Regions from separate parts of the Homo sapiens genome. Here all the other regions are linked to region 2. The links come from fine-mapping of genetic effects on gene expression. A gene starts in region 2. Each other region holds a variant in brackets. All regions are shown on one strand. Distances are between the middles of the regions.

The links.
Region 1: its variant is fine-mapped to the expression of BAMBI in monocytes after Pam3CSK4 (Quach 2016, PIP 0.95). The same link has a PIP of 0.9 or more in monocytes, monocytes after LPS and monocytes after R848.
Region 3: its variant is fine-mapped to the expression of BAMBI in fibroblasts (GTEx, PIP above 0.99).
Region 4: its variant is fine-mapped to the expression of BAMBI in testis (GTEx, PIP above 0.99).

What each region holds. Positions count from the first base shown.
Region 1 is chr10:28,980,706-28,988,268 of GRCh38, forward strand. No RefSeq gene overlaps it. Among named protein-coding and RNA genes, the nearest start is that of C10orf126, 140 kb to the left of the region's middle. RefSeq lists an enhancer at 4,437-5,636. The variant G/A (reference allele first, on the strand shown) is at 3,941.
Region 2 is chr10:28,673,034-28,680,596 of GRCh38, forward strand. It overlaps BAMBI (BMP and activin membrane bound inhibitor), which reads left to right and starts at 4,488. Exons shown (of 3, transcript NM_012342.3): 1 at 4,488-4,940. The coding sequence starts at 4,865. RefSeq lists silencers at 3,956-4,515, 5,241-5,385.
Region 3 is chr10:29,157,055-29,164,617 of GRCh38, forward strand. No RefSeq gene overlaps it. Among named protein-coding and RNA genes, the nearest start is that of LYZL1, 130 kb to the right of the region's middle. RefSeq lists an enhancer at 2,392-3,067. The variant A/C (reference allele first, on the strand shown) is at 3,146.
Region 4 is chr10:28,736,154-28,743,716 of GRCh38, forward strand. It overlaps LINC01517 (long intergenic non-protein coding RNA 1517), which reads left to right and starts at 7,497. Exons shown (of 4, transcript NR_120652.1): 1 at 7,497-7,563. The variant G/A (reference allele first, on the strand shown) is at 4,654.

The DNA.
Region 1 (7,563 bases), 310 kb after region 2:
AATGAGGAGTAGAGTAGTTCTTTTAAAAGAATGAAAATTAGGCCTATTCTAGAGACAAATAGATTCCGCTGATATTGACAATTGCCTAAATCATTAGTCACTGTGAAATCTTCAAGATTTTGCAGCTTTTTTGATATTGACTTGATACTGCCTGTTTTTATCTGGACCTCTCCAGATCGCCTGAGTTTCGACTGTGAAGATCTACTCATATACTGCTTTTCTTCTAGATTCTTGTCTGGGAATATTTAGGATCAACATCCAGGAATTCAGCATTTCCTATGGGATGTTGATATTTTCCTTTTTTCATCTTAATTGTAGACGAAAGTTGGTAAAATGAAAACCAGCTTCACATTTATGAACCTTGAGTGAAAAAGGAAAAATGCCTTGAGATGTACTTAATCTTTTGAGACGATTTAGGTGTTTTCTGTATATAACTCTAGATATCTGTGCAATTTCTTTGACCAGGGGAGCAAGAAGTTTCAGTTCCTTTAAACTCATATAAGAAAGTAGAAGTACTCCGAAAAGAAATGACTTCTAAGAGGGATACCAGAAGTCAGAGAAAGGGCTAGACATTGAAATCTGGTTTCAAATACTCTACAAGCAGAGGAAAAGTCAGGAGAGCAGCTCCTATGCACAAAGATGACAATGACAATGCTATTTGTAGTATCTGAAAATGGACTAAATTGAAAGGTGCTTAACATGAAAAGTAGACACACACAAAGTTAATATTTCTTGTAGGCAAGAGGGTTACAAAAGAACACTGGTGTCGTCTCCTGCTGCCTTGATAACATAGTGCACATCAGAAGCTCCTGCAATGAATTTTAGGGTAACTTTCATCTGAATGGAATCGCTCTCCACTTTACTATAACACCAGATTTGAACATTCTAAGTGTGCATTTTTAATATTTTCAAAAACATTGGGTTGGTGCAAACTGATGGTGGCTTTATGCTGCCATGCCATCGAATAACTAAGGATACCACATCTAGTTCCCCTTGGCTAACTCATTGCCTAGGACAGCGATAAGGAACCAAGCATGGAAGCTTTAGAGTTTTACCCCACACCTCCCATTCCAGTTGCTCTATCCACCCCTCACCCCCGCAACAGCATAATACTGCATTTATTAAATATGTGCCTGGGAAGTTTCCCCTAGAGCCACATGCACTTCTGTCCATATTTTACAGTGGTAGGTGGTAGACCTGGAGAGAGAATGTGCAAGTTACCCACCTTTATGAGGCTGTTGAAAATCACTCCCAGAATTACATCTCATTTCTAAATGTATACTTTGGGAATAAGGGCAAAGAATTAGGAAATCAATGGGATTAACTAAATTCACTGCCCTCTTATTTCTTATTTTTATAACACTTAAGGGTTTTTTTGTCTCATTAAGATCTTGGCAGAGCACTCCATTACAGAGTTCCCATGCTCCCGATAGGAGGAATATATTCTATTGCATTTTTTGGCTCATATGTTTTAAGTGTTTCTTCAACAACACGAGAGTGAGCATCAGATCACCTCTGGCTAAGGAATGAAGGAACCCACTTCAGGAGAAATTGCACTAAGACTACCTTTGTTTTAAGGGTGTAAAAATCCTTAAATCCTACTTGCACAGAATTGCGTAGACCCTGCTGAATTTTCATCAATATTGTCTTCTTTCCAACTCCTTCTACTGCATTAGCCTATAGCAACTGGACCGTACACAAATAAGTCTTAGCACTAAACTGTAGAGCTCCTTCTCAGACAACATCCATGACAGGAGAAAGGGGCATGAAGAGATGAAGCACAAAGTATACATTGAAAAAGTTGTGGGTCATGTTTTTCAACACATTTTCTTGCTTGGTTCCATTCAGTGAGCTTTGATTTCCTTTAGTTCTGGGTAGAGGATTTACGCTTATTTTTTTCTGACTAGGTGAACTATCTTTAAATACAGTGAAAAAATTCAGAAACTCTGTTATATCAAAGACTTCTGGAAATATGGGGAAGAAGGTAAGGAAGAAATTGGGCATGGTAGTGCACACCTGTAGTCCCACCTACTTGGAAGGCTGAGATGAGAGGATCATGGGAACCCAGGAGTTCAAGACCAGGCTGGGCAACTTAACAAGACCCCATTTCACAAAGAAGAAGAAGAAGGAGGAGGAGGAGGAAAGAAAAGAGTGACCCACAACCCAAAGCCTTGCCATTTCCCATAAAAAAAGCCACAATCTGTCCCTTGGAGCACATGAAGGGCAAATCTCCAGTCTAAGAAGAGGCTCCCTTCTTCCCCGAGTGCAGGAGGGGAAGCCACCTGGGATCTTCCAGCATGAGCTCATGTACCTGCTGCTGTCTTTCACGACACTTGAAAGCAATTGCATTGTTTTCTACGACCGCTGTAACACACCACCACACACCTGGTGGCTTAGAACAACCCAAGTTTATTCTCTTGTAGCTTAGGAGGTCAGAAGTCCAAAATCTGTCCTTGTTGGCCAAAATCAAAGTTGGCAAGGCTGCTGGAATTCCTTGGCATGTGAACGCATTACTCCAATCTCTGTCTCCATGGTCGCACCTCCTTGTCCTCTTCTGTCGGAAATCTCCCTCTGCCTCCTTCTTAGAACACTTTTTTTTTGGGGGGGGGGGGAGGAGTTTTGCTCTTGTTGCCCATGCTGGAGTGCAATGATGGGATCCTGGCTCACTGCAACCTCTGCCTCCCGGGTTCAAGCGATTCTCCTGATTCAGCCTCTGAAGTAGCTGGGACTATAGGCATGCACTACCAAGCCTGGCTAATTTTGTATTTTTAGTAGAGATGGGGTTTCCCCATGTTGGTCAGGCTGGTCTCGAACTCCTGACCTCAGGTGATCTGCCTGCCTCGGCCTTCCAAAGTGCTGGGATTACAGGCGTGAGCCACTGCACCCAGCCCTTAGAACACTTTTTATTGCATGTAGGGCCCACCCAGATAATCTGGAATAATCTCTCCGTTTTATGATGTCGACTTTATCACATCTACAGACTTTGCCTTTTAAGATGCATTCACAGATTCCAGGGATTAGCACGTGGCCCTCTTGGGAAGCCAGGATTTGGCCTCCGTAACACCTGTTGTTTCTCTGGTACTCAGATTCCAGGGAAGTGGATGTGTTCATGGTTTCTCTGCAGAGGAGCTCATTCCAAAGAATGATGGACACAGGTTAGTAGTTGTCCAGGCCAGAATGGAGGGATTACAGTATGTGATGATCTGTACTGGGATTTCCGAGACTAAGATTTGGTCTGGAGAGGGTGTGTTAATTATACTTAAAGTCTTCTTTCAGTCTCCTGCATATGAAGCAATACTCTGTGTACTTGGAAGGATTTAGAATTATGAAATGTTTCTTTTGTCTGGAACTAGTCTGCCTGTGATGCTAAGTAAGACAGATGGATGCGAAAGGAGATGCAACATAGCATGGGGAAGGCCAGGAGAGGTGAACGAGAAGTGAAGAAAAACAGATGATAACAGCAAGAGATGGGATTTGGGCTGGGCTCAGAAGGATGGGTGTCTTTTAGGAAACCATCCATGCCCATCTCTCCCATATTATTTAGTATCTACCTTTGCTTATGTCGTCATAAGGCTTCTCTCGTTGTTTCTAGTAGTCTGTTTACCTGGCTAGGGTGAGGACAATGGCTTATCATGTTTTAGTCCGAGATTCCCAGCATGTAGCATGGCGCCTGGCATGCAGTAGAAGCTCAATAAATATGGGCTGAGTTGAATGAATTAGTGGAGAGGAGAGAGAAGGAAATTTTGGGCAGAGAGCTAGCTCAAGAAAATGCTTGGAGGCAGGGCAATTTTTCTCATGTCAGTATAGTATGAGTCACCATGAGGAAAGTGGGGCAGTGAACCGGACTGGGCTCGGGGGATGGGTGAGCAGAGAGGAAGTGAGGAAATGGCTGCTCTGTTCTCACCACTGCTGGCCATGTTCCCGTGGCTGTTCTTGGCAG[G/A]TGTGAGGAGGTGGCGGGCCGTGCCTGGCAGAACACACCCATTGATGCAGGAGGTGGTACAGAAGAGGGGATAAGAGCAAGAGCCTTGCAGCTTGAGTCCTAGCGCTGCCACCTGTGTGAGCTTGGGCAGACTGCTCACACCCTCTAAGTCATGGTTTTCTTTTCTTTTCTTTTTTTTCTTTTCTTTTCTTTGAGATGGAGTTTCTCTCTTGCCACCCAGGCTGGAGTGCAATGGCGCCATCTCGGCTCACCGCAACCTCTGCCTCCCGGGTTCAAGCAATTCTCCTGCCTCAGCCTTCTGAGTAGCTGGGATTACAGGCATGCGCCACCACGCCCTGCTAATTTTGTATTTTTAGTAGAGACAGAGTTTCACCGTGTTGGTCAGGCTGGTCTGAAACTCTCAACCTCAGGTGATCCACCTGCCTTGGCCTCCTAAAGTGCTGGGATTACAGGCGTGAGCCACTGCGCCCGGCCTAAGTCATAGTTTTCTTATTTGCAAAATGAAGATCCATCTCACAGTTCTGAACTACGGATAAAGAAGACAAACTGTGCAAAGAGTTTTGTGCAGTGCCTGGGATGTAGGTAACACTAATATTATTGTGACTATAGATCACATCCATTAGGCTCCTCACTGGAGGGAATCCTGGCTACGCTGTGTGACTGGATGTGCCTTGGTCAGCAGTATTGACTGGTGCTGACATCTGAGCCTCTTCTTCCTTGCACAGTGAGCAACTAGCCAGCTTGTGTGACTCCATTAGGTCCCAGAGCAACTTTGAAGAGAAACCTGGTGATTCTGGAGGACAACGCCCATGTTTCTCAGGCACTCTCTGCAAATGTGAGCACCGATAGGGCCTTTACTAAGGATGAAGTTGTGGCTCTGGATCTGTAGTCTACCTCCAGCTTGCAAAGCTCTTGCCTTGCAGCCTTGAAAAACCAAGCGAAAGTGCATGGAGAGCTTTGAGGCATCCTAGCTCTGCAGGAAAACAGGGGTCAGATGAGGCAAGCTGTGTGGTGCTAGATCTGATTGTAGAGCCAGGCTGTGTCACTGGACCTACTTCTCAAAGAGATTAGACAGGATCAGAGCCAATGGGACCTTTTCCAGTGTTAATTGGACTTAGTTATAAATAACACGGAAGCCTCTTGTCATTGCTCCTCTGGGTGTCTGGCTTACATGCCAAAACACAGAACTTGAATAAAAATGTTCGAGACATGCTAGCAGGTTTCAAGGTCTTCACCCTCGTGACAGGGGTTGCGTAGCAGGTTTCCTTCTCATCAAGAGGCTTAAAAGTGAGAAGGAGCAGTGCATTTCAAGTTATTTGATAAATTGAGTAAAACCCATTTGCCAGTTGGAATTTTTTTTTAATAGAGGAGGTCCTCACTACAGTTCTAATTAAAAATCAATGTGATATATAATTAAATTCTAGTGATCATATATGCACCAGCCCGTCTCTTTAGCTTTTAGCTGAAGGCAGGGGAGGCATGCTGTTATTGATCAGTGCAGGAGCCCTTTGAGGTTGTCAATAGATGTCTCGTCTGAGAGCCACGTGGCTGCTCAAAACCCACAGCAGCGCTCAGAGCTGAAGGACACTCGACTGACTCCAGCAAAGGGGGCTGATGCTCCCTGACCATTTAAGTGCTCTGCCAGGTAGGCCAGGACCCCGTTCACCATCTCCACCTGCCATCCAGTCCTCCAAGAAGTGAGCTCTGGGGAGGAGGCTTTGGAAAGGGAGAGGAAGCCAATCAATGTTTTCCAGCTTCAAATTATCATTTTAGCTTCCTTTTCCCCATTAGACCATGGGTAAGTCCCCTCTAATTATTTTCCATCATGTGTGTCAAGTACCAAGTCAAGTCCGCTGAGTCAGAATGACTAAAGATCACATTGATTCAAGACTTATCCGAAGGCCACTGACGTGTCTAGGTGGTTCCATCCAGTCTGAGGAACAGTCCTACCCCTATTACATGAAGAACTATCATTGGGATTTTCCAGTTTCTTAGAAAGATGTTCATGTTTCTTTGTATGAATTCTTGGCAACCTCCCGAGCAATTTATCATAAAAGCTCATGTGCGTAAAGTGCAAAATCCTTCTCAAAAGACTTCCACAATTTTTATTTTTGTCCTCTCGTGTGATCCTCATCACAATACAATGATCTGAGGCATGAAAGTGGTTTTTTTTTTTTTTTTTTTTAAGACATGGTCTTGCTCTGTTGCCCAGGCTGGTTTCAAACTCCTGAGCTCAAGTGATCCTCCCGCATCAGCCTCCCAAAGTGCTGGGACTATAGGTACACAACACCATGCCCTGCTGGAAGTGGCATTTTTATTCCCACTTTACGTAGGAGCATTTCCTCACCCAAAGCAGAGACTGTTAAAGGGTTGATCCAGGTTTCTCCGGCCTGGGAGACTTTTGGAGTAGAACTTGGGTCTTCCAACTTCCTGTCCCATGCCTGACACCTGACACCATGCTGCCTGCTCAGGGACCATTGCTGACCCATCTTTCACTGCCAGGCCCTCCTCCTCCTCAGAAGACTTTATCTCTCCCTCCTTTAAAGCTGAATTTAGTGACAATATATTTTATTTTTGACTCCCACTGTTTCTTTAGTTTTTTGGTTTTTGTTTTTTAAATTTCAGACAGAGTCTTGCTCTGTCGCTCAGACTGGAGTGCAGTGGCATGATCTCGGCTCACCACAACCTCCGCCTCCCGGGTTCAAGCAATTCTCATGCCTCAGTCTCCCAAGTAGCTGGGACTACAGGCACCTGCCCCCACACCTGGCTAATTTTTTATATTTTTAGTAAGAGATGGGGTTTCCCCATGTTGCCCAGGCTGGTCTCAAACTCCTGATCTCAGGTGATCTGCCTGCCTCGGCCTCCCAAAGTGCTGGGATTACAGGCGTGAGCCACCATGCCCGGCCATAGATTTTTATTATTCAAATACCAATACGTCGTTGTTGTAACGGATTTAAATTATGTATGAGAATATAGAGCCCAGTGTGAAAGGGCCCATTCCTGGCTTGGAGCTTATACATCCTGGCTGCTGTCCTGGGCCACCAGGGAATGTCTGCTTTCCCTCCCTTCCAGTATGTCTTTCCTCCTCCTCTTCCTTTTTTCCTCGTCATCCTCTTCCCTTTCCTCCTTCTCCTCCTTTCTCCTTCCTTCTCCTCTTCCCCTTCTTCTTCCTACTTCTCCTTTTCCCCTTCACTTTCTTTCCCCTCACATCTCTCTTTCTTCTCCCATATGTATTTAAATAAAATAAGGATGTTGTTTTACACAAATAAAAAAATAGTTTTAGAAACATGCCTTGGTGGAAAGCAAGAATTTTTTCAAAACCTTTCTTATATAAAGGAAAACGACACAAAGCCTCCTGTAGTGTAGAGCTGGAGCTAATTTTAGGAAGAAGGAGGATTTGACACACATGAAGGAAAAGAGAAGCTCGTTCGCCACGAGACGTGGGGAGCCAAGACAGGGAGTGAGACAAAATAAAACCCCGTGAGTCACCTTTGAGCTCTCTCCTCCTCCCCATCCCAAATGCAGGCTACCAGCAAATCCTCCCTGCTCTATCTTCATAACATATCCAAAATCTGGCCGGGCACGGTGGCTCATGCCTGTAATCCCAGTGATTTGGGAGGCCG
Region 2 (7,563 bases):
GTTTTATTTTTATTTATTTATTTATTTATTTGCTATTATGTTCTGGCCACTGTCATTGTTTTTATTTCATAATAATTCCTGAGAAAATAACTAACTATATAGTATTTGTTTTATCATTTACAAAGTATCAAGACACACATTATATTTGATGTGTGAGTTCAAGCCATGAAATAAAATGCCAGCCAAACGTGCATATCTTCAAATATTTAATGCATTTTAACGAGATTTATGGACACAGGTTATGAAGAGAGTACACCCTAAGTGAGGTCATCAATGAACAGAATTCTTGTTCTTATCCTTGGTATTAAGGGAAGAACTTCTGATGCGCTTTTCTCAGATTGTATAATCTTCCTTTGTTCTATCTGGTCACCTAACAAATAAGCTCCTATTCTGCTATGAATCCCTTAAACACAAATAACTCTCTGATAAGATAGTCAAGCTCACACCTGTAATCCCAGCTACTTGGGAGGCTAAGGTGGGAGGGTCACTCGAGGCTAGAAGTTTGGGACCAGCCTGGGCAACATAAGGAGACTCTGTCTCAACAAAAAGTATAGAAATTAGCCCCATGCAGTGGGGAGCACCTTAGCTACTTGGGAGGCTGGGGCCAGTGGTTCGAGGCTACAGTGAGCTATGATTGCAGCGCTGTACTCCAGCCTGAGTAACAGAGGGAGGCCTTCGTCTCTAAAAAAGCAAAAAAAAGCAAGTAACTCTCTACTCTCCCATTCACAATTTAGTGCCATTTAGTTACATGTTTAGCCTATAATTTCAAAGACATCATTTAAAATCTTTAAAACATCTATACGGCCAGCATGGTGGCTCACACCTATAATCCCAGCACTTTTGGAGGCTCAGGCAGGAGGATTGCTTGAGCCCAGGAATTCTGAGACCAGCCTCAGTAACATAGGGAGACCACCATCTCTACAAAAAAATTAAAAAATTAGTCGGGCATGGTGGCTCGCGCCTATATATATACATATATATCTCCCATGGATAAATTATATCTTGAATGCTGTTTGAAGGTAATAAAAAACTATTCTACTGTTTAACGGTTTCAGTTAGGTCTAGAATCAGTTTTCTGTTCTTGGGTATAGAGAGCTTGTTCCTAGGTATTTTCGGAATCCCTTTGTAGATGTAAAAAGAATTTTGGTCGTTGATTTCATTTCTTGCTTTAAACTTCAAAAGGACAGTAGATTGTACTATTTTTTTTCCCTCTACTTATCAACCTACATGTAGGAAAGTAATAACTGAATTATGTGCAAAGCATAAGTAAAATTCTCTAGAGAAGCAATTTTCCTTAAGAATGTTAAATTGAATTAAAATTGTTGCCTATTCTCTCAACTATTGATATGGCCTTATGATTGACACATTATCCCTAAACTGATTTTGATATTCTACATTGATTCAAACACTCTGATTCATTTAGTTGAAAAGTCCATGTCTTCCCCAGAACCATTAGATAAAGTGCGGACTTGTTTCTCTTTAATTTCTGGTCATTTAGAAAGTTTGCCCATTAATAATAAAAACAAAATAGTTGAAATCATTGTCTAAAAAATGGATCCCAAGTTCTTATTCAGAATTGGACTTGGAACAAAAAAATATATACAACCTGGAGTGCTCAAAGTCAACATTAATTCAATAAAATACAAATATCTTAGTTTGGTTTCTTTGGGTTGCAAGGAAAAGAACCTTAAGTAAAAAGGGGACTTTATTAAGGTTACTGAATTAACCTAAGGACAAGAAGTGACGCTGAGTGCCTGGAAATCCATTTGGATTTATGTATTTGCCACTTTGCATATCTTCATTATTTTTCTTCCTCTGCAGACAGGTGGACTACAGCTGCCCCAAAGCAAAATTTTTATGTCTCCCGTGAAATGACCTCAAGGGACTGAGCAGCATGTCTGCTCAAAGACACAGAAGAGAGAATCTAACTGACCTAACCTGGGTCATGTGACTAGCTATGGCCAGAGATTAGGAGATCAGAGTCTCCTAATCAGGTTGCCAACGCCCACTCCGGGAAAAGGGACATTCTCTGACTTGGGCTGGGAGACACTCAGAAAGTGTCTACTAGAATGCAACTTTCACCAACACATTCCCCAGACCTCTTCCATTAAATATTTATCTGTATCAAAGGGAAGTATAGTTCATTTCTGATACGTCTCTGTTCACTTCTTCACATTTTATGCTGCAATCACAAAGACTTGCTTGTCATCCCAACTACCTGTTCGCTGCTTACCACTCCTACTCACCTACACAATCATATTTCATGCCTAAGTCCTGTGGTCCTCTGTGCTTGTAATGGTCTTCTTCCAATCCTTAATGTCATTGCTTCTAGACTTTACCGGCTCTCTTTACCTTCCTAGACTAGTTAACCTCTTTCTTTTAGGCATTGTAACATCATGCACATAAATCTCCATTATTGTCCAGCTCCATTGTTTTGAGATTTACTATCTAGTTTCTGACATCTTTATACCCCCAGACATTGCAAGCCTCGCCTACGGTGGGAGGCCAGGTTGAACTAACATACCCTGAAAGTTTCCTTTTAGCTAATAATTGACTCTAAAAGAGAGTGTAATCATTACATAAAAAGTATTGTCCTCTGGGCGCGGTGGCTCACGCCTGTAAATCCCAGCACTTTGGGAGGCCGAGGCGGGCGGATCACGAGGTCGGAAGTTCGAGAGCAGCCTGACCAACATGGCGAAACCTCGTCTCTATAAAAATACAGAAATTAGCCAGGCGTGGAGACAGGTGCCTGTAATCCCAGCTACTCAGGAGGCTGAGGCAGGAGAATGGCTTGAACCCGGGAGGCGGAAGGTTGCAGTGAGCCGAGATCGCGCCACTGTACTCCAGCCTGGGCGACAGTGCCAGACTCGTCTCAAAAAAAAAAAAAAAAAAAAAAAAAGTCTTGTCTGCATAAAACCCTTACAATTGTTAACTTGTCAAGGTTCTAGTAGCCAGGAAGTTCTAATCAAACTCGGCCCCAGGACTGCCTTGTCAGCACGCCCCTTGAGAAACTTTTCTGAGAAACCTGCTGTTTACCTGGTGCCCTAACCAGTTTAATTTTCTTTTAAAACTTCTACTGGATTTCTCCTTCTCTCCTTTTAGATGCAATTTTGATCTAGAGAAGTAATGGTCTGAGCATCAGTTTATGAAATTATTTTATTTTTCTGCACATAAACATTATTTTTCAAAGACAATTTCATTAACTACATCCTGCAGCTCTGCAGACTTTCAACAACTTTAAAAGGTTAGGCGTTTGAGATATGTTCGCCTTGACTTTCAGTCCTCAAGACATATGTACATTTTTCTTAGTCTCAAAGCTCATGTCTGCACTCTAGTCCTAAAGGATTTGTCTTTATAATTCTCACCTTAGCATGAAATGTGCTTCTCTTTCTTTCCTTCCCCACCCCCCACCCCCTTTTGACATATCCGGTAGGGAAGCTCTGGCAGATTCTCAAGAAGAATTTTGCAAATGGTCGACTTTTGTTCATCTCAGGTTTTGGAGGGAGAGGATAAAAGAACATTCCCTCAGATAATGAGTTTTAACCTTAATTCCTTCCAAAGCGGAGGGGGAAACAAAACTACAGCAAGACCACCTTGAGTACCTTGGGAAGGGCAGCCCCGCGATCCCTAATAAATGAATTAGCATCTCAAGGAGGAGATCACTGCGGGGCTGATATTGATCAGGGTCAGCCGGCGTGTTTGCCAGCCATTGTTTGGGGGGTGGTTAATTGAGTGTCAGTCTCGGCCAGTGTCGTCTCGTTGGCGCCGGGTGCTTTTGGATTTGCTAATTTTCGTTAAGTGTCTCTAGCCCGCTACTCGTCCCGCGTACCCGGGAGAACCTAGCGGCTCCTAACGGATCAACAGTCAGTCTGTCTGGGCTTTATTGATCCCATGGCGGGCAGCTCGAGGCGGACACGCTGAGGGGGTGGGGGGCGAAGGCTGAATGCAGACCCCAGCGCTGGGCCGCCTCCCCCGGGCTCCCACCCGAACCCTCCTCCGCCACCTGCACAGGCCGGGGCATTGTCACTCGCCCCTGGGGGTTCCAGAAAACGCAGTGCGGCCGGGGAGGACGACCACACGGACCCCCTGCGTGTTTCGGGGGGCACCCAAAAGAAGCCCCGCGCTGGGGAACGCTGACCACCCGAGGCTGAGCCGTCAGGGTCTCGGAGGCGGGTTCCCGAGCCGGTCCCGGGGCTGGGCTCCCCCGGCGCCTCGCGAAGGTCACTGACGCGCAGGCCTCCGCAAGGGGGAGCGCGGGAGACGGCAGCGCACCAGCCGGGCGCCCCAGCCGGGCGCCCCAGACGCCGGCGCCGCTCGGAGCCGCCGGGCAGGTCCCCCAGCGCTCGCGTCTGGGCCCGCCCCCCGCTGCGGGGCGGATTGACAGGAGCCCGGCGGCCAATCGGACGCCGTGGGGCGGGGCGAGGCGGGGCGGTGCAGGCCGGCTCCCGGCGCGGGGCGCTATTTACGGCGCGGAGCCGGAGAGACCTGGGCTGGCGCGGGCGGGAGCTGCGGCGGATACCCTTGCGTGCTGTGGAGACCCTACTCTCTTCGCTGAGAACGGCCGCTAGCGGGGACTGAAGGCCGGGAGCCCACTCCCGACCCGGGGCTAGCGTGCGTCCCTAGAGTCGAGCGGGGCAAGGGAGCCAGTGGCCGCCGACGGGGGACCGGGAAACTTTTCTGGGCTCCTGGGCGCGCCCTGTAGCCGCGCTCCATGCTCCGGCAGCGGCCCGAAACCCAGCCCCGCCGCTGACGGCGCCCGCCGCTCCGGGCAGGGCCCATGCCCTGCGCGCTCCGGGGGTCGTAGGCTGCCGCCGAGCCGGGGCTCCGGAAGCCGGCGGGGGCGCCGCGGCCGTGCGGGGCGTCAATGGATCGCCACTCCAGCTACATCTTCATCTGGCTGCAGCTGGAGCTCTGCGCCATGGCCGTGCTGCTCACCAAAGGTGGGTGCCGGGGGCGCACGGGGCCCGGGGTCCCGTCCTCGCCGCGGGGCTTTGGAGCCGGCTGCAGAGGCTTTGTTAGCGGCAGGCGAGGCTCCCTCCTGCGCCGGAGCCGCAGGTCGCGACAAGTTGCTGTGTTCTTAGAAGTCGCGGCGGTGGCCTGGCGCGTGGATGCGGACTCCGATCTAAGGGCAGGCGCTGATCAGAGGGTCCTCCTGGCTCTGCCTGCGGGGAGCGGCGCGTTTGCAGCCCAGCGGGGAGCGGGGCCGGAGTCTCGGCCTCGACGCCGCCGCTTCCGCACCCTGGGGGCTCGGGCGGCCGGGAGGAATCGCAGATCCTGGCCTGTAGCTGCCGCGTGCCCTCAGCGTGTCTGTGTGAGTGCCTCAGGGTGTATTTCTGTGAGTGTGTCTCTGAGTCTCAGTATCCCTAAATGCATTTTTGTGTCTCTGAGTGTCGTTGTGTTTCTGAAAGTGTGTCTGAACCTCTGTATCACTCAGCGTATCTCTGTGTCTCTTTGAATGTATCTCTGAATGCATTTCTGTGTCTCTTTCTGAGTCTTTGTGTCTCTGAATGTGTGAGTCTCTGTATCTCTGATCTTGAGTGTGTCTTTCTGAATGCATTTCTGTGTCTGTCTCTAAGTGTCTTTGTATCTCTGAATGTGCATCTGAGTCTCTGTGTGAGTGTGTCTCTGCGTACATCTCTCTGTGTGCGAGCGAGTGTGTGGGTCTCCCTGAGAGTTTAGGTGTCCGAGGTGTGCAGAAGTGTGTGTTGTGTTGCTTTTCAGCAGCCGGGAGGAGTAGGCTCTGTCAGCGTCTCACTGCCACTCACCTCATATTTTACAAACAGGACCAAAAAAAAAAAAAAGGCAGCGGGTCAGTTTCTTCTTTCCTCTGCAGGCTTTCACCTTTTAGAAAGAAATAACCCGAACTGTCTCCGAATTTCAAGGTTCTCCTCACCTCCCTGCTGTGAAATCTACCTACTGTTCTGTGAACAGATAATTTTTTTAAGTAGGAAGCAGTTTAGTCTTTGCAGCCCCCTACTTCTCTTTAATTGCTATGTAGCAGGCATGAGGTTAAAGCATAAGCTAGCCCAGCGAGGATGATGTGCTACAGTATTTATTTATTTTGGAAGGAAGGGTGTAATTAACCCTAAATAACAGCCCTTGTGGCTTGCAGAGGGGAGCCTCCTGGCCCTATCAAAGGCGGGCAGAACAGGGAGGGACTGAGGCTGACATGAAGTCACAGATACCGAAACTATGTGCCTGATAATGATATAATTAGGGGATCAGAGATTTCTGACGGCTGCGGACTTCAAAAGCTTTAAAAGAAGCCAGCAGTCTCTCCTGTAGCCATCTTGACTAAAGCAGACATTTTTGTTTAATCACTACATACAGTAACGAGAAGGGGACAGAAACAGAAGGGCATTGTTCCACAGTTTCAAAATACCAGTCCCCTTTCTGGCCTTTTGCATGCCACAGGAAGAAACTTTATGAACGACAGAAATATAGTTTTAATACAGTGGTACAAAAGTCCATTCTCCTTGCTTAAAATGTGGCTCCAATTAAAAAAAAAAGGTAGTTAGAACTTTCCCAGTTACCTGTCAAAATTTTATTAGGCTGTTTTTAGGTCATTGAAAATAGGCTCTCATAAACATTTAAGCAGCATTTTACTTGTATTCAGTCTTCCTTTTCTGTACAAGGTCTGAAGCTAATAGGGTCAAAATGGGCTTTTAATCTGTTTTATTTATACTTTAAATCTATATATGGAATTTGTCAAACTAGGGATATGTAGTCATCACCCCAGAAGACTGGTGAGCTTTATGTGGAAAATAAAGTGAGCTTGGAGGGAGGAGGAGAAAGAGCAGAGAAGTGGTTCTGCAAAGCAAGGTTCTTACTTGAAGCAGAGAAGGAACTTGGGCCCAACCAGTGCAGATTTAGGAGCAAGACCCCTAGCTTTGGACTGTTAAGGGTTGCCAAAGATCTGTGTTTAGCGGGCTGGTTTTCCTTAGAACCGAAGCATTAGCAGCGTCCGGTGAAAACTGAGCATACAATACCGTGGTCTGGAATTTGGACAGATAATTAAATGAGACACCTTACTGGGGCGTTCAGAGAGAGGGGGAAGAATAAAGGTAAGGGTGGGAAGAGGTTTGTAAAACAGCAGATCCCGGTGTTTAATTTCAGAGTGGAGGTTTCGGATCTTCAGACGGGAAACTGGAAGAGGCGTGTGCATTAGTTTAGTTTACTCGCTGTGGCATGTGACAGCGACCAGGGTCCACTAGGTGGATATTGTATTAGTGAGAACTTGAAGACCCAGATTATTTCAACGAGAAACTGATATTAAAGCCTCCAATCTTGCCCTGCGACAAAATGTGAACGGAGCCATGCAACTCACAAAATAAGTTTTTATAAAGGAAACTTTTAATCACTTCCTGTAGAAAATTTGAGGTTTCCTTAAGGATTTTTCATTCAACCAGCAGAGGATTTTCAGTTTCAGTGTTTCCCCTTTTAGATCACATGTCGAATTACATGTAAAACTTGTGAGGAGGAGGAGGAGAAGTTAGCCTTGCAGTTTTATACTCCCCCCACCTTTTATGACTTTCCATTTGGGCTGAAAGAAATTGACTTTGG
Region 3 (7,563 bases), 480 kb after region 2:
CAACTCTCACTCAGTACAGCACCCAGGAATGTATGGAAGTCTCCTGTCAGGAGCAGAGGCCTTCCCCTTACCATGCAATTTACCTAAAGAGCCTACTTTGGTTCTTCATGCCAAGACTATTGGGCTGAGAACTAGCTGTTACACTCTGGCACCCAAGTGTAATTACTGTATTCACTTGGATGATGAAACAGAAACAAAGACAAGAATCTGCCAGATCCACAGTGTGATAGATTAATTTGAACTCTATCAGCATGTATGGAGATTCAGGGACTTCATTGTTTAGCTACAGAGCTCTTTGCAGAGCTTGCATCTGTTGGTCATCTGTGCTGCTGTTTGCAGCCATAAGCTAGGCATCTAGGCAGATGTTGGACAATGCCGGCCTATGTAGCCTGGCCTTCATTAGTGCCATGAGGAGGAAATGCATTGCACTAATGTTCATAGCAGTGGCTGAAACCCCACAACAACACCCTGGATGCTGCCTGGGAGTGGCCCAGGCAATGGTGGAAGAACAGGACATACCAGGGCCCTGGGACACAGGAAGCCATTGTGCCTTAAGCCCCAGAGCTCTCTTCCAAAAGGGCCCCACACAGAAGGCATTGTTTCAATGCCCTGAACACGTCTACAGCCCATTCCAGCTCATGATAATAAGCTAATTAAAACTTTAAAGCTTAGCAAAAAAATGCTTCACAGTCTCTATGTCTCAATAAAAGACCAGGCTACAGGGCTCTGAGTGTGAACACATGCACCGTCTACTCAAAGCTGCTCCTACTCAGAGCCTGCATGTCCTTCCTTCCTGGTGAGCAAAAGGCATCCCAGCTGCCTGCTTTAATGCACAGATCCATCCCTACCATATCTAAGACAGCTGATGTCCTCAATCAAATGTGACAACTGAGGATATAGCCAAAAGAACGCATTGAGTCAGGTGACCCCCCTGGGCAGTGTGGACCCCATCATAGAGAGCTAAATGGGCTTTATGCGCTGGGCTCAACAGGACTTGTAGGAGCTTGTTTAAGATTCCCAGGAAGGAGACTGAAGCCTTGCAAATGGAAAATGGGATGGAGAAACAGGAGCCACATAGACATCGGTGTACAGTTCTTAAGTCTGCAATAAATAATAACCGCTCTATCTACACTGCCAGGCCCCAGAAGGTTCCAAGTCTCCTGAATGTCCCAGGGGCCTCTCCTTCCAACCTTCAGGAAGCTTTTACACCAAGATGATTCAGTTCTCCCTTTATGAAGGCAGCACAAACTCAGCTTCTTCTTAGAAGAGGCAGGAAATTGGGGATTCTCTAAGGGCACTTTTAGAAAATTGAACATAGAACCTTTTATTAGCGAATGCATAGTCGGCTTTAGCTCTCACATTCATCAGAAGCACTTCAGGGAGAGAAAATTAATGATAATCCTAAGTACATAATGACTTGCTGGAGACCAGAAGCCTCCACTCTGATGGGTCTGACTGGAGCTTTGCCCCCACAGTAATGAAAGATGCCGCCTGTGAGCTTGACCTTGGCTTGGTTCATGCTTCAGAGTAAAGCGCTGCAAAGTTGGTAGGGACTGCTTAATCTCTTTCCTGGTGACTGAAAGCAACTTAGATTGGGACCATTGGGAATAGTGCTGTACTTGGTTATTTTAAAAAAGACAGAAAGAAACTCTTTGCTTTCAATATTTCTTTCCAGTGTAAACATAAAAGCTCACAGAGCCCCTAGGAGAGTAGTACACAGGGCACAGAAAAGCAAGTTATTGTGCAAAAAAAAAAAAAAAAAAAAAAAGAAAAAAAAGAAAAGGGTGCAGCCTTCCTATTAAAAGCACATTGGTTCAGTAGTACAGCTAAAGACAGAAATCAACCATACCCAGCCTAGTGTGTCAGTGAAATTGATGCTTTCTATTTTTCAGAACATGAATTGTGCAGCTATTACCCAGCAAGACACTTAGAAGTGGCTTTGCAATGTCATGCCTTTCTCCTCGATGCTGACATGGGGAGTGATTGCTTTAATTCACTCCTGGGTACCTAGAACTTGGTTGGGTGGCTATTGTTCCCAGTAGAAGGTGTCCAGGTTCTTGGCATCTTAAACAAAGAATTGATTTGGACAAAACGCACAAACAAAGCAAGGAAAGCAAGAGTAGGGATTTATTGAGAAGGAAAGTACACTCCACAGTGTGTGGGAGCGGGCCCAAGCGTAGGGGCTCAAGAGCCCAGTTACAGAATTTTCTGAGTTTCAATACTCTAGAGGTTTCTGTTTAGTTACTTGGTGAATTTCTTTTTTTTTTTTTGAGACAGAGTCTCGTTCTGCCTCCCTGGCTGGAGTGCAGTGGCGCGATCTCAGCTCACTGCAACCTCTACGTCCCACGTTCAAGCGATTCTTGTGTCTCAGCCTCCAGAGTAGCTGGGACTACAAGCAGGTGCCACCATGCCTGGCTAATTTTTGTATTTTTAGTAGAGATGGGGTTTCACCAGTTTGGCCAGGCTGGTCTTGAACTCCTGACCTCAGGTGATCTGCCTGCCTCGGCCTCCCAAAGTGCTGGGATTACTGGTGTAATCACCAACCTGGCTGCTTGGTGAATATTCTATGTAAATGAAAAGAAAGAAGTGAAGTCACAGAGTCATTTACTCAGAATCTGCCCTATTGTAAATGGAGAGGCTGTTACTTGGAGTGTGTGGTCTATGTAAATGGAGAGGATGAATGTGAAGTTACAAAGTGTAAATGGCGGGACTGGAGAGGAGGAAATGAAGTTACAAAGCCATTCACATTCCTGTCATTGCTGAAGTGCTTTCATTTGATTTAGTTCTAGGAACTAAAGGTGTGGATGGGCCTTATGTTCCCTGCCTCCGGGCCCTATTCTCCTGCCTCAGTTATCACACATTAGACTTAGTTGTTATTTTTCTTTTTTCGATTCTCACTAAGGTGTAAATGTCTGATATCAGAGTTTGTTTTCGAAATTGGAGAGGAAAAGGGGGAAGACGCCTGTGTCTCACCCAGGCCCCTGAAATAGGAGCAAGAGCTTGGTGGAGTCCTTGGAAATTGTTTAAAGGGGAAACTGGAGGCAGGTAGAAGGCTTCACAGTTCTGTTAAAGTGGCCCTCACTGAGGTGTTGTGCTAGGAAGAAAAGACCTTGGGCATAACAAAGCCACATCCCAGACAGCCTGC[A/C]GCACACTCCTGTTGCCAGAGCTGGTGACTCACTATGACTATCCTTGTGGTTTCTGCTGGGCAGCTGGGCTGGGCCATTTAATGTTCATCATTAATTACTGTTGTCTCGATTCTTGTCATTAGAGTATCAACAGGTTTAAAATGAGCCTGAGTTTTTTATGTTGAGATCAAAGGCAAACCAGTTGGGAGATGGTGGGCAGAGGGGTAGGAGAGAGGAGGGCCGAGTAAAGGGTGTTTCTGGGATTTCCACTGCTCCGGGGTAGGGTTGACCCCACCGTGGTACAGAGACACCGATGGGTTGTTCAGCAACTGAAGCACCAGCTTCCTCAGAGTCACTCTTGCCAAGAGTCAGGCGATGGCTTTATCTGGAGCCTCACAATACTGGTCACTTACTCCTTCCAAAGGCGTGAGGCCTCTGAGGTTAGAGAACCAGCATTTCACAGAAGGGAAGGAGAGGGGAATGATGGAGACTTCACCTCCTCAGGGCAGAGTCCAGTGGCCAGATGAGTGGGAAGTCCTCTGATCCACAGCCCTTGCCCTCACTTCTTCTGGTTTCTGGAAGAGCACAAGTAGAGCTGGCCTGTCCCTCTTGAGTCATAACAGGGACCAGAGAACCTTTTGCTAAGGTTGTCCACTGTAGGTGCCCCATTCATGCCTCTGTACAGTGCCCACTTCTCCTTTCAGGAACTTGGGTGCTCTTGGACATGGCTCTTTCTTGGCCTGGTGTCCTTGAATCCCGCTCCCCCAAAAGCTTGTAAAGCTCTTTTGATGAGAATCAGGGGTCACCAAACTGGCTCAAGAGTATAACTGGAGTGAGGGGGCTGTGTGAGGATGGGAGCAGGCTGTCAAAGGCAAAAGCCATGCCATTTGAAAGGTAGCCATCTGGGTGCCATAGCACCTGCATTCTTTTAAAATATATATTTTAGGCCTGGTGCAGTGGCTCATGCCTGTAATCCCAGCACTTTGGGAGGGCAAGGAGGGTGGGTCATGAGGTCAAGAGATCAAGACCTTCCTGGCCAACAAGGTGAAACCCCGTCTCTACTAAAAGTACAAAAATTAGCTGGGCTTGGTGGTGCATGCCTGTAGTCCCAGCTACTCAAGAGGCTGAGGCAAGAGAATTGCTTGAACCTGGGAGGCAGAGGTTGCAGTGAGCCAAGATCATGCCACTGCACTCCAGCCTGGTGACAGAGCGAGACTCCATCTCAAAAAAATATATATATGTGTGTGTGTGTGTGTGTGTGTGTGTGTGTGTATAATATTTTGGGCTGTAATCAGTGGCTCATGCCTCTAATCTCAATGCTTTGGAGGCTAAAGTGGGAGAATCACTTGAGGCCAGGAGTTCAAGACCAGCCTGGGCAACATAGCCAGACCCACATTTCTAAAATAATTTTTTAAAAAATTAGCTGGATGTAGTGGCATATGCCTGTCATTCTAGATATTTGGGAGGCTGAGGCAAGGGGACCTCTTGAGCCCAGGAGTTTGAGGCCACAGTGACCTAGGATCACAACACTGCACTTCAGCCTGGGCAACAGAGCAAGACCTCATCTCTAAAAATATATAAATAAATACACAAATAAATAAATAAATATTTTATTGATATATAGTTTTATGCATAAAATAGATAGATTTTAAGTGTAGAGTTCTATAGTTTTGACAAATGTATCCAAATTACCAATACTCCAAAGAAGATCTAGGACATTTCCACCCCAAGAGTTTCCACCTGTCCTTCCCAGCTCCCCCATCCCATCCCAGAGACATCATTGTTCTGATTTCTGTTCTCCACAGCCTTTGTCTACCCAGGTAGACACTAGTGGTGGAACGCTTGCATCCCATACCCTCACATCATGGAACTAGCCCTCCACCCTCCCCCTTCTCTGCCAGGCGCATGTTGATACAGCTCTGAAGAGTGGAGGAACACCAGGTTCTTCGTCTGGAGTCAAATTAGATAAAACGACGCGGACACACTGGAGTGGTTTTAAGAAGCGGAGAGTTTAATTGGCAAGAAAGAAGGGGAAAGAAAGAAAGAAGAGGTCCCCTGTACAGAGACAGAGGGAGGAGGTTTCCAAAGCTGAGAGAGGGAATCCCAAGTGTGGTGGATACCAGCCAGGTATATGCAGAGGCTGGAGGAGGCAGTGTCTGATTTGCATAGGGCTTAGGGGATTGGTTTGATCAGGCATGACATTCACATAGCCCTTGAAAAAGCTGGCCCTCCCACCCTAGCCATTTAGTACGCAAATGCAGGCGCCATGATGTTCTACACACGTGGGGATATGTGGGGGCGGCCATGTTGCCAGGAACATGTGGATCAAAGTCAAGAAGGCCGGGAATCGCCATGTTTGGATGGACCCAGTTTCTAATGGCTGGCATTTGAATAGCAAAGGTTGCTGACCTGGCTTTAAGAGCTGCTTTAAGAATGAAAACTTCCCAAGGACCCCTTTTTCCTGTCTATCTGCCTAAAATAATTTCTTAATAACTCCTACAACAGCATTTACTTGAATACACCTGTTGTGGGGGCAGAGTGTATAGCAGAGGTGATAAAAGAGGAGGAGAAGAAGCTCAGAGATGAGGATGGTAGCTAAAGTGCCATTGATCTGCCTTGGGCAGGTATTAAGCTGGATTCCGAGTAACCAGGATGGGAGAGGAATCTTGCTGGATTAAGGAGTGTTTTGTGTAGAGGAGGAGAGAAGAAGGAGGATAAAAATTTGTCCCTAAGACAGGAGGCAGCCTGGCCTCAGAGAAAGGCTCTGGGGTTGACAGCCCTGGCATTGCAGACACACTCACTAGCTCTGTCATCTTGGGATGCTTCCAGCTTTTGTGTTGGTGAATTGAGGTAATCATTTGGACTGTTAGTTAGGGGTGTTATGAAGTTTAAATGGGATAATGCAAATAAAACACCTATTGTAGGGCCTGACACATAATAGGTATTTCATATGTGATAGTAGCTGTATTACTGCTGCCAGGTAATCCCAGTTCTTAGTAAATGCTTTTCTTTTCTTTCTTTTTTTTTTTTTTTTTTTTAATTGAGACAGAGTCTCACTCTATTGCCCCGGCTGGAGTGCAGTGGCAAGATCTTGGCTCACTGCAATCTCTGCCTCCTGGGTTCAAGTGATTCTCCTGCATTAACCATAGTACAGTTCCATTTGGCCAATAAAATGACGAATTATTCAGAAATTTACAGGTCCTGTTTTTAATTATGCAAAAAGTCATTATTAAAGAGTGTTTTGCTATAACTAGGAGCTGAGCTTCCTTTAAACTTTTATTGCCGCAGTAGGCTACCAAGTGAAAAACAAAAGAAAACCAAAATAAATGGACATAGTTCAAATCACAGCAACAACAACAAAAAACAATAAATAAAACTCCAAACCCAAGTTAAGCACTTAGTCACTTCATCATCAAATAAGACCAGGGATACTGAATTCAGATGAATAGAACCGCTTTGGATAAAAAGATGGCACTGACCAAGTCCCAGCCCAAAGTGTGGGCCAAACCAGACACAGCTGCTTGGGCACATAGAAAGTTTTCTAGATGTTGTTTTGATTTTATGTTCAAAATTCAGAGGGAGAAAAAAAAGTTGAGCCCACTGTAGGGTGGGAATCACCAGGTTACCTGCAGCCAGACACGGTGAAGATGATACATGGACACTAAAACACACAGACAGAAGAGTAGCTGGGTGTGAGAAAGCCCAAGGAAGAAGTTCCCAAGTAAGAAACATCCTGGACAGGATGACCTCAGAGTTTCCTTCCAAATCTGGAAATCCCCAGTTCTCTGTCCAGCCCTCCCAGCCCTCAGGGGAGCCAGGCAAACACAGTGAGAGATGGAATGTCATCTATGACAGGAACATCTGTAAGAAAGAGGCACTTTTCATTTTCGATGAGGCAGAGGGTTACAAGGAAGGGTTAGGGGACCTTAGTTTCTGGTTATGATGTAGAAAGTCAAAAGAAGCTGTCTGCCACTCTTGCCCTAAAAACCAAATCAAGAAGAATCAGTGGGACAGGAGAAATCTACTTTAGATGGTAGGGAGAAACCCTTCAAACTTGTAAGAAAGTTTTAATGGCTATGTGTGAGATAATGTGAAAAATTAGAATGTCAAGGAGTTCTATCCACAGAGCAAATCTGTATCCACTTATCAGCTTTTTAATGTAGGTTTTCACCAAGTTCATGGGTGGTTATGTTAAACGCTGGGACCAGATAGCTTAGAGAGATCCTCACAAAGTATGATGGGTCTTCCCCAGGTGCAAGGCAGCCGATGTCTAAAGGTGGAGGACAGACCAGGAGAGCAAAGAGAAAAGCATCTAAGGCACTATGGGCTTTTAATGACCAAAGATTAGGGAGGGGCAGGCACACCTTGCTTTCAGATTTAAGAGGAACAGAAATTTGAGGACAGGCACAGAGAGCAAAGAGAGGTCATTAGTGATCTC
Region 4 (7,563 bases), 63 kb after region 2:
GTTGCAGCAGAGAAAGAGGTTTAATCGTAAGGCCGCTGAACAAGGAGACAGGAGGAAACCTCAAATCCACCTCCCCAAGGAGTTTGGGGCTAGGAATATACATAAATGCAAGTATAGGACTTGCATTTATATATATTTCTATATTCCTATATTTGCATATATGTATAATATATATATTATATATATAAAAATGGAAGTTAGGACTCTCTCTCTCTCTCTCCGTAGGTCTTGCCTTCCTCCCACCTCAGTCTCCCGAGTAGCTGGGACTACAGGTGTGTACCACCATGTCTGGCTAATTTTTTATTTTTTGTAGAGATAGGGGTCTCACTATGCTGGCGTGGCTGGGGGGCCAGGGATTTTAATGGGTTTAGAGTGGATTGAGCTGTAGGGATTTTTCATGGGTTGAAGAGTGCAGGGTGAAGTCATAGGATGGGGTGATGAAGAAGCTATTTTCATGCGGACTCGGTTCCTCTGTGGGGTCTTCAAACTGGTTTGTGTCAGCCGTTTCACTAGAATGCAGGGTCTGAAAAGCATCTTAAGTAATTCTTAAACAAAAGCTTTATGATTCTATCATCAGAGATCCTATCTACAGGAACAGTGGGGATGCAAAAGGTCTGTATCTGGTGCTATGTGACTTTCAGTTACATGGAAGTGGGCAAAGTGCAGCCTGATGAATGCTTAATTGTAACCTTATTTCTGTCCAGAACCTGCCATGGAATTCTTGTTAACCCTGTGATGATGGTTTCATGCCCAGTATATTCTTCTCAGAAAAGTGTTTCTACCTCCTCTTAGACAGAGTGAATAAGAGACGGTGAGAGGCCAGATGTTATATTAATGTCTTGATGGTCATCCTTTTCATGGAGGAAGCACCAGAAGTTCCCCTTGTGGAGTTCTAATTAGAGAAAAGGAGTTGGGCTGGTGGGACCAAAGGAATGCAAAAAGAAGCAGATAAGCTACAAATCTGCCCTTCTTCATGATCCAAGACACATAACCCTCCTGCACAAGTAACTTACAATCTTCCTGCACTCAGCTATCACCAGACCCTCAGCTGATAGAAAAATGCAAGTTAGCTCGCTGCAACCTTGGCAATATCAGTACTGCATAAAGCCCTCTTCAGCACAAGCACAAACACTATTGTTTAAAATCCCCAGCAAGCCTTTGTCTCCTGACAGTCAGCTCCTTTTTGCTGGCCTGCCTGTTGCTCCCCTGCAACGTATTTTTCTACTTCCTCTAATAAATCTGCCTTTCTTTACCTACAACTGTCTTGGTAAATGCTTTCATCACTGGCACCACTGGTCTAGATAGTCACCACTCATCCATGACACCCCTTACCTTATAGTGAATAGATTTTAGCTGTGTATCCTGTAACTTTTCAACCATACCATGGTTCGCTAGAATTGATAACACTTTTCAACCCTATCCCGATAGTAGTTGTCAGGAAATGCTAGTGAAAGAGTTTGGAATTAAACTAGCATTCTAGCCGAGCATGGTGGCTCACATCTGTAGTCCCAGCTAATAGGAAGGCTGAGGCAGGAGGATCAATTAAATCCAGGAATTCAAGGATGCAGTGAGCTATGATTGTGCCACTGAACTCCAGCATGGGTGACAGAGCAAGATGCCATCCCTAACAAAAAACAAAAGCAAAAGAAAAAACTGAGAGTCCAAAGATGTGTTTGATTTAAATAAGTAGAAAGAGCAAGATCATTATTCTAGACAGAAGGAAACAATTTGAGCCAAGAAATATTCATTCTGTATTTAGGGGACAAATACATGAGCTGACTAATTTGAAGAGTTTCTAAAAAGCTAAGTTTGAGCAAGCCATGCCTGGCGAAGAAGTTGAAGGTTTCCAGCGATCACATGTGGAATCAGATGGTCTGACTACTGAGCTTTCTATCTTTGAAAAAACCCTGTGGATGTATAAATGTTCTACAATTTTATGCCAGTCATTTGCCTGTTTGCTATCAGATTCATTCTCTACCCTTCCCTTGCTCTGGTCTGTATTGTAGGAAAATCATTTTCCAGAATTTCCATAATTGCCTTCTGGCTGGGTTTGGCCAATGGGAGGCACTGGCATGAGATTGGAGGGTAAGTGGTAGGAAGAGATCAAGGCACATTTTGTCCTCTCTTTCTGGCATCTCCAATAGTAATCATGTCTCTTCTAGGTTCCTGATCCCAGAAGATGTCCCTGCGGTGGTTCCACCTTCCACCAGCTTCTGCCAGATCCTGGACTCCAGGAACACTGCCCCCTTCAGGCCAACTTTTTGGACTTCCTCACTGTCTTCTGAGCCCCCAGGTCTTCCAACACTTTTGCAGCCACTTCCCTGTATTAAATGCCCTCTGTTTGAAATATCTAGAATAATTTTCATTTTCATGGTTGGACTGATTCACCACTTTCCCTCCCACTCAAATTCAGTAAGATCTACTATCTTATGACAGATATCTACCCACTCATTGCTTCCCGATGCAGACATAAACTTGGATCCCAGGCCGTGGAAGAGCAGGTCAAGGTTTGCTCCTTAGAATTGTTGCTTTGGTGACATGTGGAGAAGGATGGTGGTTGCTGAGACTAGAGGAGACTTGTTGAGAGACAATTGCAATGATTCAAGAGGGAGAGGACAAAGGTGTAAAGTCAGACTGTTTCACTGCAGAGGTAGAGTGGGGAAAGGGACACGAGAGATGCAGAAGAGGCAGAATCAGGTCCCTGATTGGATGGGGCATTTTGGGAAGATGAAGGAGGCTGGAATGATTCCCAGGTTCCTCCAGAGTGAATGGATGGCACTTGTGTTCTTGACTGAGCTTGAGGACACAAGAAGAGGGGCAGCAGATCTAGATGGCTAGGAAGATCATGAGTTTGTGGCACGTTGAGTTTGGGGGGCATGTTGTACTCAGGAAAGGGCAGGAGAGAGATGGTTTAATGTCACAGCATAGGTGATAAGAGATCTATGGATATATAGGTGAAATCCCCGGGAGATGTGGATAGAAAAGAGTTAAAGGCAGAACATGGAAGAGCCTCAACATGGACAGAGAAGGCAGAGGACTGAGTTGGAACAGCCCGAGAGCTCAGAGGAGAGCCAGGGAAGAGCAACATCATGGAGGCCAAGGGAGAGCATGGTTCAAAAAGGGAATGGTCACTGTGTCAAAGCCTGCTTTTAAAGCAAACTAAATATGGCCTGAGAAGGACTCCATACTTCTATATTTGAGTCCTTGTGGATGAACTGTAACCTAGCTTAATAGGCAGACAAAATTGAAACCCTAACTTCACAGTATGCACCTGTAACAATAGCTAAGTCTTGGCCAATCCCAGCGGCCATACTTCAACCATTCATACACTGCTGAGTGTTCAAACTGTGTTCAAATAAGTCAAATGCCAGCCTGTAACCAATCCAACCACTCTGTACCTCACTTCCAATTTCTGTACGTCATTTCTCTCTTTTTTGTCTATAAATCTTCTTTCACCACGTGGCTGTGCTTGAGTCTCTGTGAATCTGCTGTGATTCTGGGGGCTGCCTGATTCACATATCATTCATTGCTCAATTAAACTGCTTTAAATTTAATTCGACTGCAGTTTTTCTTTTATCACTGCACAATGGCCAAGAAGGATCAGTCACAGGAATTGACTGCTAGGAGGATATGTACAGATGTGGGTAAGTGACAGATGTAGATACTCAAGCTTGAATAAGTTTATGCCTGATGGCTACACACACACACACTCTCTCTCTCTCTCTGTGTCTCACACAAACACACACACACAGACACCTGTTTAGAGTTATATTTTAGGCAAGAAAGATGGTATCTATTATACATCATCTGGTTGCTCTAGTCTAGAGGAAAAGAGTGAGCAGATTTTGGTTGGCTTTTTCATTTTCTTCTCTACACACATGTAACGCAGGGGTCTCATCAAGAGATCAGGAAAATCTCAAGGGGTCAGACCTGTGGCCCCAATCTGCAGAGAAAATGAGGAGCTGTTGGTTAAAGTCCCAGTTGATGGGGCCAGAGCTGTTGGGCTGCAAAACCAACCTTCCTTCCTTTCTTCCTTCCTTCCTTCCTTCCTTCCTTCCTTCCTTCCTTCCTTCCTTCCTTCCTTCCTCTCTCTCTTTCTTCTTTCTTTCTTTTTTCTTTCTTTCTTTCTTTTTCTTCCTTTCTCTCTTCTTTCTTTCTTTTCTTTCTTTCTTCTTTCTTTTTCCTTTTTTTTTTTTTTGACAGAGTCTCGCTCTGTCGTCCAGGCTGGAGTGCAGTGGCATGAGTTCGGCTCACTGCAAGCTCCACCTCCCAGGTTCACGCCATTCTCCTGCCTCAGCCTCCTGAGTAGCTGGGACTACAGGCGCCTGCCACCACGCCTGGCTAATTTTTGTATTTTTAGTAGAGATGAGGTTTCACCATGTTGGACAGGCTGGTCTCGAATTCCTGACCTCAGGTGACCCTCCCACCTTGGCCTCCCAAAGTGCTGGGATTACAGGTGTGAGCCACTGCTCTGGGTGCCACTTTCTCCTGTAAGGTGCTTTGAATAATTTGGTGTCTCTAAGAGTTCTGAGAGTTGTCTGGGCTTTCATTTTTGGTTCACCGAAGCAGGACTGATGAACACAGGGCCATTCAGGTGATGGGCATTTCCTGGTGTCACATGGGAAGATGCTGCTGATACCCAAGCAGACACAC[G/A]GAGCGGTTGATTAGTGTCACCACTCAGATGGTTTTCAACATCATTTTACCACCAAGACTGCAGGCCCAGATTCTCCTAAGCCAAGAGAGGTGAGGTGTAGGGTGGTGGGTATGGAGGAGTTTGTGGGTGGCTAGTAAAGGACAAACAACAAGTAACATCTTCTGGCTTAGAGTCCTCTCAAATTATCTGAAATGATATTGCTTGGAGCCTCCTTACCCTTATATTGCCCCTTAGTCCACTGGGCAGAGCAGAGGTGCCAAGATGTAGAGTGGAGGAGAGTTTGGGGGCGCAAGGGGTTTATGGAGTCATTAACAAGAGCGTTGATCCTTCATAGGTGGAGGTGGCTGTATCCCCAGGAATCCCAGAGAGCCTGTCATAGATGCTTCTTTGTGGCAGTGGTCAGGGTTCTCACCTGGGCTGTAAATTGGACTCCTCTGGGGAGCTTAGACAACACCAGGCCTGACCCCCATACCCGCCCCATCCTCCTCTCTGCCCCTGATTTGTGCTTCTGTTGGTCTGGAACAGGCCTAAGCATCAGAGTTTTTAAAAAGCTGCCCAAGTGTGGCCAGGGTGAAGAATTTTTGAGTTCTAGGTTATTCTTTTGGGCTTTTAAAGGGTATGAAGCTTCCTACACAACAAAGGAAATAATCATTGACGTGAAAAGGCAACGTATGGAATGGGAGAAAATATTTGCAAATTATCCATTTGATAGGAGGTGAATAGCCACAATATATAAGGAACTCATATAATTCAGAAGCCAAAAAACAAATAACCCCGTTAAAAAATGATAAAAACATTTCTCCAAAGAATTCATACAAATGGCCAACGAGCACATGAAATGTACTTAATTAATATCACTAACCATCAGGAAAATGCAAATCAAAACCAGAGTGAGCTATCACCTCACACATGTTAGGGTGACTATCATCAAAAAGACAAAAGATCAGCATTGGCAAGAATGTGTGGAAAAGGGAAACGTGCACAGTCTTGATGGGAATGTCAATTAGTACAGGGAGGTTCCTCAACACACTCAAAATAGAACTCCCATATGATCCAGCAATCTCAAATCTCAGTATATATCCAAAAGAAAGAAAATTACTATCTCAAAGAGATATTTGCACTTCCAAGTTCATTGCAGCATTATTCACAATAGCCATGATAAAAACAACCTACGTGTCCATCAGTGGATGAGTGGATAAAGAAAATGTCATAAACACACACACATTATGAAGTATTACTTAATTAATTATTATTATTACTATTATTATTTTTTGAGACAGAGTCTTACTCTGTCACCCAAGCTGGAGTCAGTGGCATGATCTCAGCTCACCGCAACCTCTGCCTCCCGGCTTCAAGTGATTCTCCTGCCTCCGCCTCCCAAGTAGCTGAGACTACAGGCGCACAACACCACGCCTGGCTAATTTTTGTAATTTTAGTAGAGACAGGGTTTCACCATGTTGGCCAGGCTGGCCTCGAACTCCTGACTTCAAATGATCTGCTGGCTTTGGCCTCCCAAAGTGCTGGAATTACAGGCGTGAACCACCATGCCTGGCCTATTATTTAATCTTTAAAAGAAAGAAATTTTGTCATTTGTGACAACATTGAACCTGGAGGACATTTTGTGAAGTAAAATAAGACAGGCACAGAGAGACAAATGCTGATGTCACTTATATGTGGAATCTAAAAAAGTCAAACTCGTAGAAACAGAAAGTAGGGGGTTGTTACCAGAGGTTGGACCAACGGGAGGGGAGAGGAAATGAGGAGCTATTGGTTAAGGGGTACAAACTTTCTGTTATAAGATGAATAAGTTCTGGAGATCTAAGGTACAGCATGGTGACTATAGGATTAATAATAATGTATTCTAGGTTTGAAATTTGCTAAGAGGTTAGATCTTAAGTTGTCTCACCACACACACACACACACACACACACACACACACACACACACACCCCCCACACTACACAAAGGTAACTGTGAAGCGACGGATATGCTAATTAGCTTAATTGTGATAATCATTTCACAATGCATACATATATCAAAACATTATGTTGTGTATCTTAAGTATATACTTTTTTTGTTGTTTTTTTGGAGACATGGATCCCATTCTGTTGCCCAGGCTGAAGTGCAGTGGTGCCATCATAGCTTACTGCAGCCTTGAGTCCCTGGGCTCAAGTGATCCTTCTCCCCAGGCTCCTAAATGGCTAAGGTGTGCATTGCCAGAGCCAGCTAATTTTTGTATTTTATGTAGAGATGAGGTCTCACTATATTCCTCAGGCTGGTCTCAAACTCTTGACCTCCAGTGATCCTCCCACCTTGGTTCCCCGAAATATTGGGATTACAGATGTGAGCCACTGCATGCGTGCTTATTTGTTAATTATACCTCAAATAACCTGTGGAGGGTAAGAGCATAAGCCTTCTGGGGAGGTTTGGCACTTGGCTGTGATGCAGGCCTTCTGACTTTTTTTTTTCTTTTTAAAATAATTAAAATAGAGATGGGGGTCTCACAAGTCCAGGCTGGTCTCAAACTCCTGGTCTCAAGTGATCCTACCACCTCAGCCTCCCAAAGTGCTGGGATTACAGGTGTGAGCCATGGTGCCCAGCCATGACTTTGTTGCTCAGCTCATCTTTGCCTCACACTGGCTGATGTCAGCTGCTGCGATAGGTGAGGTTTTAAGGGGGGTGGAGAGGGATTGGCAGGGGGCAGTTTTGCCATCAGAGTGGAGGTGAGGGGTCTGTTGTGGTGGCAGTCAGCAGCTGCCTGAGGATCTGGGAGAGACCTAGCAGGCAGTGAGGACAGTGGATGGCAAGGGGCCTCAGAGCTCTGTGACCTCATAATTTTCCTGTGGGACCACAAAGGTGGCTTCCACAGTGCATAGTGGTTATCAGCTGTGCCTCCCTCTTAGAGGTCC